2 linked regions of the Homo sapiens genome follow. The protein of the gene in region 2 purifies or fractionates together with the protein of the main gene of each other region. This does not show direct contact. Each region holds a gene or a part of one and is shown on either strand. Other genes may lie near its edges.

What was found. Proteins that work in one complex are often made in the same cells at the same time.
Region 1: the proteins of AGAP3 (region 2) and P4HA3 purify together in Homo sapiens (co-immunoprecipitation; one large-scale study listed by IntAct). This does not show direct contact.

The regions. Positions count from the first base shown.
Region 1 is NC_000011.10:74,284,110-74,287,670, reverse strand, and holds part of P4HA3 (prolyl 4-hydroxylase subunit alpha-3 isoform 1 precursor), read left to right. Parts: intron 1-1,279; coding exon 1,280-1,443; intron 1,444-1,685; coding exon 1,686-1,862; intron 1,863-3,561. UniProt on the Homo sapiens protein: Catalyzes the post-translational formation of 4-hydroxyproline in -Xaa-Pro-Gly- sequences in collagens and other proteins.
Region 2 is NC_000007.14:151,085,150-151,089,278, reverse strand, and holds the start of AGAP3 (arf-GAP with GTPase, ANK repeat and PH domain-containing protein 3), read right to left. Parts: upstream 2,805-4,129; 5' UTR 2,538-2,804; coding exon 2,207-2,537; intron 277-2,206; exon of another isoform or gene 1-276. UniProt on the Homo sapiens protein: GTPase-activating protein for the ADP ribosylation factor family. GTPase which may be involved in the degradation of expanded polyglutamine proteins through the ubiquitin-proteasome pathway.

The DNA.
Region 1 (3,561 bases), on a different chromosome or scaffold from region 2:
TTATAATTGCATGTATACAAAACTTTTTAATGAATCCATTTAGTAACATTATTCCCTTCTGATAATTAGCAAACAATAGGATAAGGAAGTAGCTGTGTATCTACAAACACATGAGTAATTAGTGGTACAAACAAAATTATAATCCAACCCTTCTTTATTTATTTGCACTTGATCTATTAAAATCTTTGCTATCCACTCAAATTTTGTGCTTTTATAGGTGGATAATAGAACATGGCAAGTTGAGATTCCCAGTTTTATTTCCGGCTTTGCAATATTTTCACTGGGGTTTGGGCTTATAATTTCCATTCTCCAAAACTTCACTTCTTCTCTTGTTAAAACAGAATGGTAATTTCTGCCCCTTCCTTTCCTCCTTTGCCAGGGTGATGGTTGTGGTTAGAAGCACACTGGGCTCCTCAGAGAAAGATGCTTTGGGAGCATTAGAACAATTCAGCATCTCCTTCTGAGATGCATTGAGAGTCATGCAAAGAGGCCAGCAGGCCACGGGTAGCTCTGCCAATGCATGGGGCATCTTGCAGCCAAAGTGGGTACAAACAGGTGGGCACAAACAAGACACAAGATTTATTGGGTTTCCCAAGGGCCCTGTGGGAATCCAGTCTAGAGCCAAAGTCTAGAGTCCCTCTGCGCCATACTTCTTTGCTCTGGGTCTAGGCCAGTTAGGAGATTTGAAAGATCTAGTGGAGCCAAGAATGAATTAGCTTCCAATTCTCTGGGGAAGAATAGGTTGGGTCCTTTTGCAATAGGCTTTGGCTTTCTGGACTTCTCTTTCATTGCACTTATCATATTTTGTTGTAAGTGATAATTTAATGTCCTTTTTCTCCATTAGACTCTAAACTCTGAGAGGTCAACCTGTAGCACAGTATCTGGTACATAGTAGATGTTCACTGAAGATTTACTGAATGGATGGGTGAAAGAATGAATGAATGAATGAGGCTTCATCTTCGCCATATATACCATCACAGTATCCCAGAGCAGCCATCTTCATGATCCCTTGGCCTAAGAGTTTTAAGTTCCACTTTGCTTCCCAAAACCCTTTGCACCTTCAGATCTACCAGGATCAAGTCAGTCTTTTAAAAAAATACCAGGTAGTCTTCTGGGAGTGAGGGCCTTGCATCCTCCTGTGTGTTGACATGAGGAGTTATTCAGGAGATCCACTTGCCCATCCTGTGCAGCAGTGAAGCTGGAGGAAACCTTGGTGGCACTCCCTGGGGCCAGTATTTGTTAATCCCTATTTTATATTCCCTGCTCTGATTTCTTCCAGGCCCAGATAATAAGAGGATGGCCAGGAATGTCTTGAAATATGAAAGGCTCTTGGCAGAGAGCCCCAACCACGTGGTAGCTGAGGCTGTCATCCAGAGGCCCAATATACCCCACCTGCAGACCAGAGACACCTACGAGGGGCTATGTCAGACCCTGGGTTCCCAGGTAGGATTCCTCAGGGAAAGAGAAAGGGGGAGAGGCCTGGCTAGAGTTTGAGAAGCTAGAATTGGGATAACATGAGGGGATAGAGCTGATGCATTAAAAACAATAAAGCTCACTTGGGCAGCATCAGAGTGACCACATTCTGTATCTCTTGCATTCCAATTTTTTTATGCCATAGTTCCCCTAAGTTGAGTTTTGCTCCTAGACCCTTCTTCTCTTATGCTCATCCTATTCTTTCCTTCCAGCCCACTCTCTACCAGATCCCTAGCCTCTACTGTTCCTATGAGACCAATTCCAACGCCTACCTGCTGCTCCAGCCCATCCGGAAGGAGGTCATCCACCTGGAGCCCTACATTGCTCTCTACCATGACTTCGTCAGTGACTCAGAGGCTCAGAAAATTAGAGAACTTGCAGAACCATGGGTGAGTGTCCTGAGAACCCGCCAAGAATTTCTCTTTCATCTTCACATGCCTGGAGTTCAGGAGTGTAAGAATAGGCAACCTGAACAACTAGACACCTCAAAGAGCCAAGGAGTTCAGAATGCCAACCATTCCATAAAACTAGTCCATGGTGGAAAAAAATCACAATAGTGCTTGCCTCTAGAGGGAAAGGATTAACTGGATGATGTACAAGAGGATTCTCTGGGGTATTGAAAATGTGCTCTCAATATCTTGTTAGGGACGTGGTACATGTGGCTGTATGCATTTGTCAAAACTCACCAAATGGTCCACTTGAGACCTGTGTATATCATTGTATGTAAGTTTAACCTAAAAAAAGACAAATAAAAAAGAACACTTCAAAAGTGTCAACCATTCTATGTAATTGGTAGAGGTGGGGAAAAGGGTGAAATGACAGCGGCAAGGAGTAAAATCCTAGCACAAATTTACAGAGTTAGAGTAGAAAGCTAAACTTCATTATTTTGTTAAAAAGGAAACCGAGGCCCAGAGAGGGGAAGGGACTTGTTAAGCTCATACATGTAGCTAGAGCCACAGCTAGAACTTAGAGGTACAGTAGTCCCCCTTATTTGCAATTTTACTTTCTGTGGTTTCAGTTATTCTCAGTGTAGTACAATAAGATATTTTGAGAGAGAGAGGTCATTTTCCCATAATTTTATTACAGTATATTATTATTATTATATTTTATTGTTAATCTCTGTGCCTCATTTATGAATTATAAATTATAACATATAATTATAAATTAAACTTTGTAATTCAGTTACAATCATTATTATAATTTCGTTATAAAAAGAACCAAAGGAGGCCAGAATGATCAGGGCTAGCGGGCCCAACGAAGGTGCAGGGCTTCAACTGAGTCTCCAAAGATGGGCAGAATGTGGCGAGAAGTGTTGAGTGAGTGTGCTTTGGGAAAGGGACAGTGACTAGGAAGCAGATATTCAACACAAGCCACTGAGGCATCTGTCTTCAGTTTCCATGGGGGAGCCACTACCATGTGAGCCCAGGGCTGATTCCTGGGAGAGCCACAAACCAGACAGGCATCAGCAGCCCCAGAGAGATGCTTCTAGGGGAAGGAAGTGTGCCAAGGTCTGTGCATGCCAAATGGACGACACGGCCATGAATGACTAAATAGACATCTCTGGGTGGGTCACTTCTCCCATTACCATGGCAACAGGGCTGTTTTAAGGAAAAATTTAGTTATAATGTAATTATGATTATAATTAAATTACAATCATGATTAAATTAAATTACAATCATGATTAGATTAAATTTTGATTGAAGCCATCCCACTGTCTTCACTTGGAGACCCAGCCTGACAGAGCAGCCTCTGTATGGGACATTGCCAGTCTCATGGAAGAGGAAAAAGACAAATGGCAAACATGAGCTGGTTCATAAAGCTTCTGCATGGAAGTGCCAGATGTTACTTCCACCCATGTTTCACTGGTCAGAGCAAAGCATGTGGGCACTACTGCAGTTAACAGCAAGGTTCTAATTCTTCCACAGGGAAAGCACTGCAAGTCACCAAGCCAAGCTGGATGTCAATGGGAAGAGGACATTTAATCCTCCCCCTAGGAAGTGTGCTAAATATTAACAAGAAAAAATGCACCTCTATAAGCATGTTGCCTCTTTAAAGATATTGTCTCAGAATTATTTCTGTCAAGCCAGA
Region 2 (4,129 bases):
GAAGGTGGGGACACCGCTTCGCAGGACAGAAGCAATATGGTTTGGCAGATGGAGAGGAGTTCTATCGCAGGAAGGATATAGGGCAGAAACTGGAGAAGGAGTGGTTTTTTTTTTCTTTTGAAGACTGCCTACAGCAGAAAAGTGGGAACGCAAGACGGGTGAGGTGGATAAAGATGACGGTGCCAGGAGAGGCTGGGCAGGGGGGAGGGAGGGACAGCAGGGCAGCAGGGCAGCAGGGCCCAGGAGTGGGAACAGCAGGGCTGAGAACGGATGTGTGAGCCGCGGCTGGGTCGGTCTGGTGACAGTGAGACACCGGCTCCCGGGATTTCACGAGGGTGAGGCCGAGCTTCCAGGCCTAGTAGACGGAACCATGGGGTATTTCCAAACCGCAATGGAGAAGTCGGTCAGGGGAGGGCTCTAGGAGGGGAAATTCTGCCTGTTGTGTTAAATTTAAGATCAGGCAAAAAAAACTCAAGGGCGCCCCAGGAATCAGCCTTCACATCACAAAAGATGCTCAACCAGAGGCTCCCCTGAGCTGGGGAGGAGGGGTCGCTGCTCATCAAGCTGGAGCCAGGGGAGCCCGGAAACCTCTCCCTGCTCTGGGAAAAGCTCGGAAGCAGATGTGCCCCCACCCTCCTGTGGCCGGCCCACGAGGCTTGTCGCCCTCCAGAAGGAGCTGGGGGAAGGTAAGCTTGGAGCAAATCAGGAATGTCTTTACTTCCTCCAAGGACAGTGAAGCTGCAGCAACGATGTCTCTCCCGCCTCCACCCTCTTCAGATCTAAGAGGAAAAATTGGTCATCTCCTGTCTTTGGGGCCCAGGGCTCGCACAAATGCCATCTCCTAGTCCCCAGCCACAGCGGTGATTCAGGCCATTTACTCAGATCCACGTTAATGAGTTTTTTCTGTCACCTAATTAGTTCACAGAGAACTCAGCCTTGAGAGGAAAGAAATAAGAACGGGTTGGGAAAAGGCAGAAGGAAGTCAGACTGGCATGTCACAACAAAAGATAGAACCCAGCACCACATGGGGTCCCCCCAGACCCAGTACTTCTTCCCCGGCTATGGGGACCTCTGAAAGCAGAAAGGGAGGTGTTCAGGTGCACTATCCCCCAGAACCTCAGGCAAGCAGATGAAGCTGGGAGTGGGGCCCTAACCTTAAGGCCCAAGTCAGGGACAGGCCCCTGCCCATAACTCCATGTTATCGCAAAAGGCCTTGGCTCTCACTGCATTTCCACTGAGGCCAAACCCACCACCTGCCGGTGGGCGTCCCCTTTCAAACAGAGCTGGGGGAGGAAGCAGATGGCCCAGGGTGAGGCCCATCTGTCCGTGCCCGCTCGAAGGTCACCATGCCACCGGGGTGCCTGCGGGTGCCTCCAGCACCCACCACACCAGGGCTTGCGAGGCATCTGCCAGCAGCGTGCCACCACTTCCTGTGCCCTCAGCGGTCGAAAGTCCAGGGCCTAAGGGCCCAGAGAAAAAAGCGCTAGGCAGCGCAGTGGCCGGGGGTTTCCGGTCCCCGACTCCGGGTGCGGTGTCCCTGGCGGTCGGTCAGCACCCGGCTGCCCAGCAGCTGCCTCCAGACCGAGGAGCCGCGGATCCCCGTCAGGCTCATGACCCGGCCAAAGCGCGGATGGACCTGCCGGCGCCTCCCACGCGGTCGCTGAGCCTCAGCCCAGCGCCAGGCCCGGCCCGCTCCCGCTTGGCCGCCGCGGCGTAGGGGGTGTGCGTCGGGAGAGGGCGCCGCGGCGAGCGCCACCCTCCGGGCCTGCGGGCGCTGGGCCCGGGAAGGCTGCCATCCACTAACGCGAGGCTCCGATCCCCCGCCCCACTGCGGAGCAGGGCCCGGGCAGCGGCTAAGAAGCCTCCCCGGTCACGACCCCACCTCCCCGCAGCTGAAGCCCTCTGCCGCGCCCACCTTCCCCGGCCAGGCCTGGACAGATCTGGTCCCGGCCCCCCCAAGCGACACCACCTTCGCGCCCTGGAACACAGTCAGCAGAAAACCCCCAACCCCAAAGTGTCCCCGAACGAGATATGGCGAAGCTGCCCGCCGGTTCTGCAACACAGATCGGCAAACCTCGTGGCCTGGTCCTCAAGCGCGCAAGGACCCCCGACAGGGAGAGCATGGCCAGGCACGGCCTGTGGAGCCCTCGGCCGGCGCCGGAGAGGCCACTGCGCCCCGGCTCCCGCAGCCCCCGGCTCCGCTCACCCTCGATGGAGATGACGTGCTCCCGGATCTGGTTCTGCAGCGCCAAATCCTCGATGCGCTCGATCAGGTCGTAGATGGCGTAGATATTGGGATGCACGGACTCGAAGCGCTGGATCTCGGCCCGGATGGCCGCGGAGTTGGAGAGCGCGAACTGCTGGGGGGGCCCGCCGGCCAGCTGCTGCGAGGGGCCGCCGCCGCCCCCGGCCCCGGGCCCCGCGCCGCCGAACTGCCCGCCGCAGACGAGCTGCTGCGCGGCAGCGCCGCCGCCCCCCGGAGCCGCCAGGCTCTGCTGCTGCTGCGGGCTCTGCCCCCCGCCCGCCTGGAAGTTCATGGCTTCGGAGCCGTGGGGCCCGAGGCGGGCCCGGGGCGGCGCGGCGGAGGCGGCGGCGGCGGCGGCGGCGGCAGCGGCGAGCGGGAGCGCGGGGCTGGCGGGGCCGGGACTACTGGGCTGGCGGCGCGGGGCTAGCGCATGGAGCCGGGGGCCGGGGGCCGGAGGCCGAGGCCAGGAGGCGCCGCCGCGCACGCTGTGGCCGCCGCTGCCGAGCGCTTCCCAGCGCCGTGATCCCGCTGCCTCGGAGCAGCCTCCAGCGGCAACAACAACGGGACCGGGAGCGCGCGGCCCAGGCCCTCCCCCCGCGTCATGCGCACGCACCGCCGCCCCCGCCGGCTCCGGCACACGCAGCCCGAGCCCCCCTCCCCGCCGCCCCCGCCCCTCCTGCGCGCCGGCCCGGGCGCCCCCGCCCCTCGCTCGCTCGCTGGCTCTGCAGCCTCCACCCCCGAGCCGCGCGCTCCAGCCCTGGCGCCCCGGCCCCTCCCACTCAGCCTCGGCCCTTCCGCCTCCTCACCAGCCCCCACCCGCATTGCCTCGAGGGCCACCCTCGCGGAGGGGACAGCTGCCCTGGTCTCCTCCCGCGCCCGGCTGTCGCTTTCGCCTCCCTGCGCTGATCTGGGCGGGGTGTCGGATCTCTAGGCAATGCCCAAACAGTGCCCTGCGCCTGAGGGTGCTGCTGACCGAGGCTGATTGGCCGAGGAGTCCGCCCAGGCCCAGCTGCTCCTCGCTTACAGCGTCCCGCCTTCAGTGCGGCATAGGCTCCCCTGTCCCCAGGCTCCGAGGTCAGCCCTAGAGACCACCCTGCTGCCGGAGTTTTCTCCCTGTCTCCCTGCCCAGGCTCTCCACTGCCGGCTGCAGCAGTGCTCTCCTAAAAGACCCTCCCCCTGCCGGACTTGGGAGATTAGCTAAATGCTACCCGACCCCATTGGTACATAGAGGAAGAAGAGGGAGGGATGAAATAGTATATGCCTTTCTCCCCTACTCATCCCATTGGAGAGACCAACCAAAGCCCACGTGGCTCTCAATTTTTCTTGTCCTCACCCCTTGTCCATCCTGTCCTTTCACTCCCTCTAGGGCCAGGGAGCTCCCTGAAATGTCCCAGTTCCTCTGCAGTCCCATTGCCAAAGTGGGCTGCAGTTCTGTTAGCCCCCTCCCCCCCACCAACACACACACGTTTCCTAAAACCTACAAGAGGTGACATTTGCAGAGGCCGCAGCCAATAAATCTGCCAGAGATGTTGCAGGGTATCTGCTACCCCCAGATATCCTAGGGCATCAGTGACACACATCGTCCTTCTTACGCACACTTCCACTTCCCTGGCCAAGCTGGATCTTTTCCCAGCATGAAGCTGTCCACTGTTTGATTACCCACACAACTCAGCCCCAGAACCAACCCAGTCACTATTCCCGAGTTCCTTGTACCTTCCAAAGCACCTGGTGCAAGCTAATCAACACACAGGGTCTCCTAAGCTCCTGAGGAACCTGTGTTTCTATCTCCCTGCATAAGCTTAAGGATATCTTGTGCCCTCTCTGGGTTTCATCTGCGAAATATAGTGGTTGAACATAAAACCTAGTTCTGATGTTGTATAATTC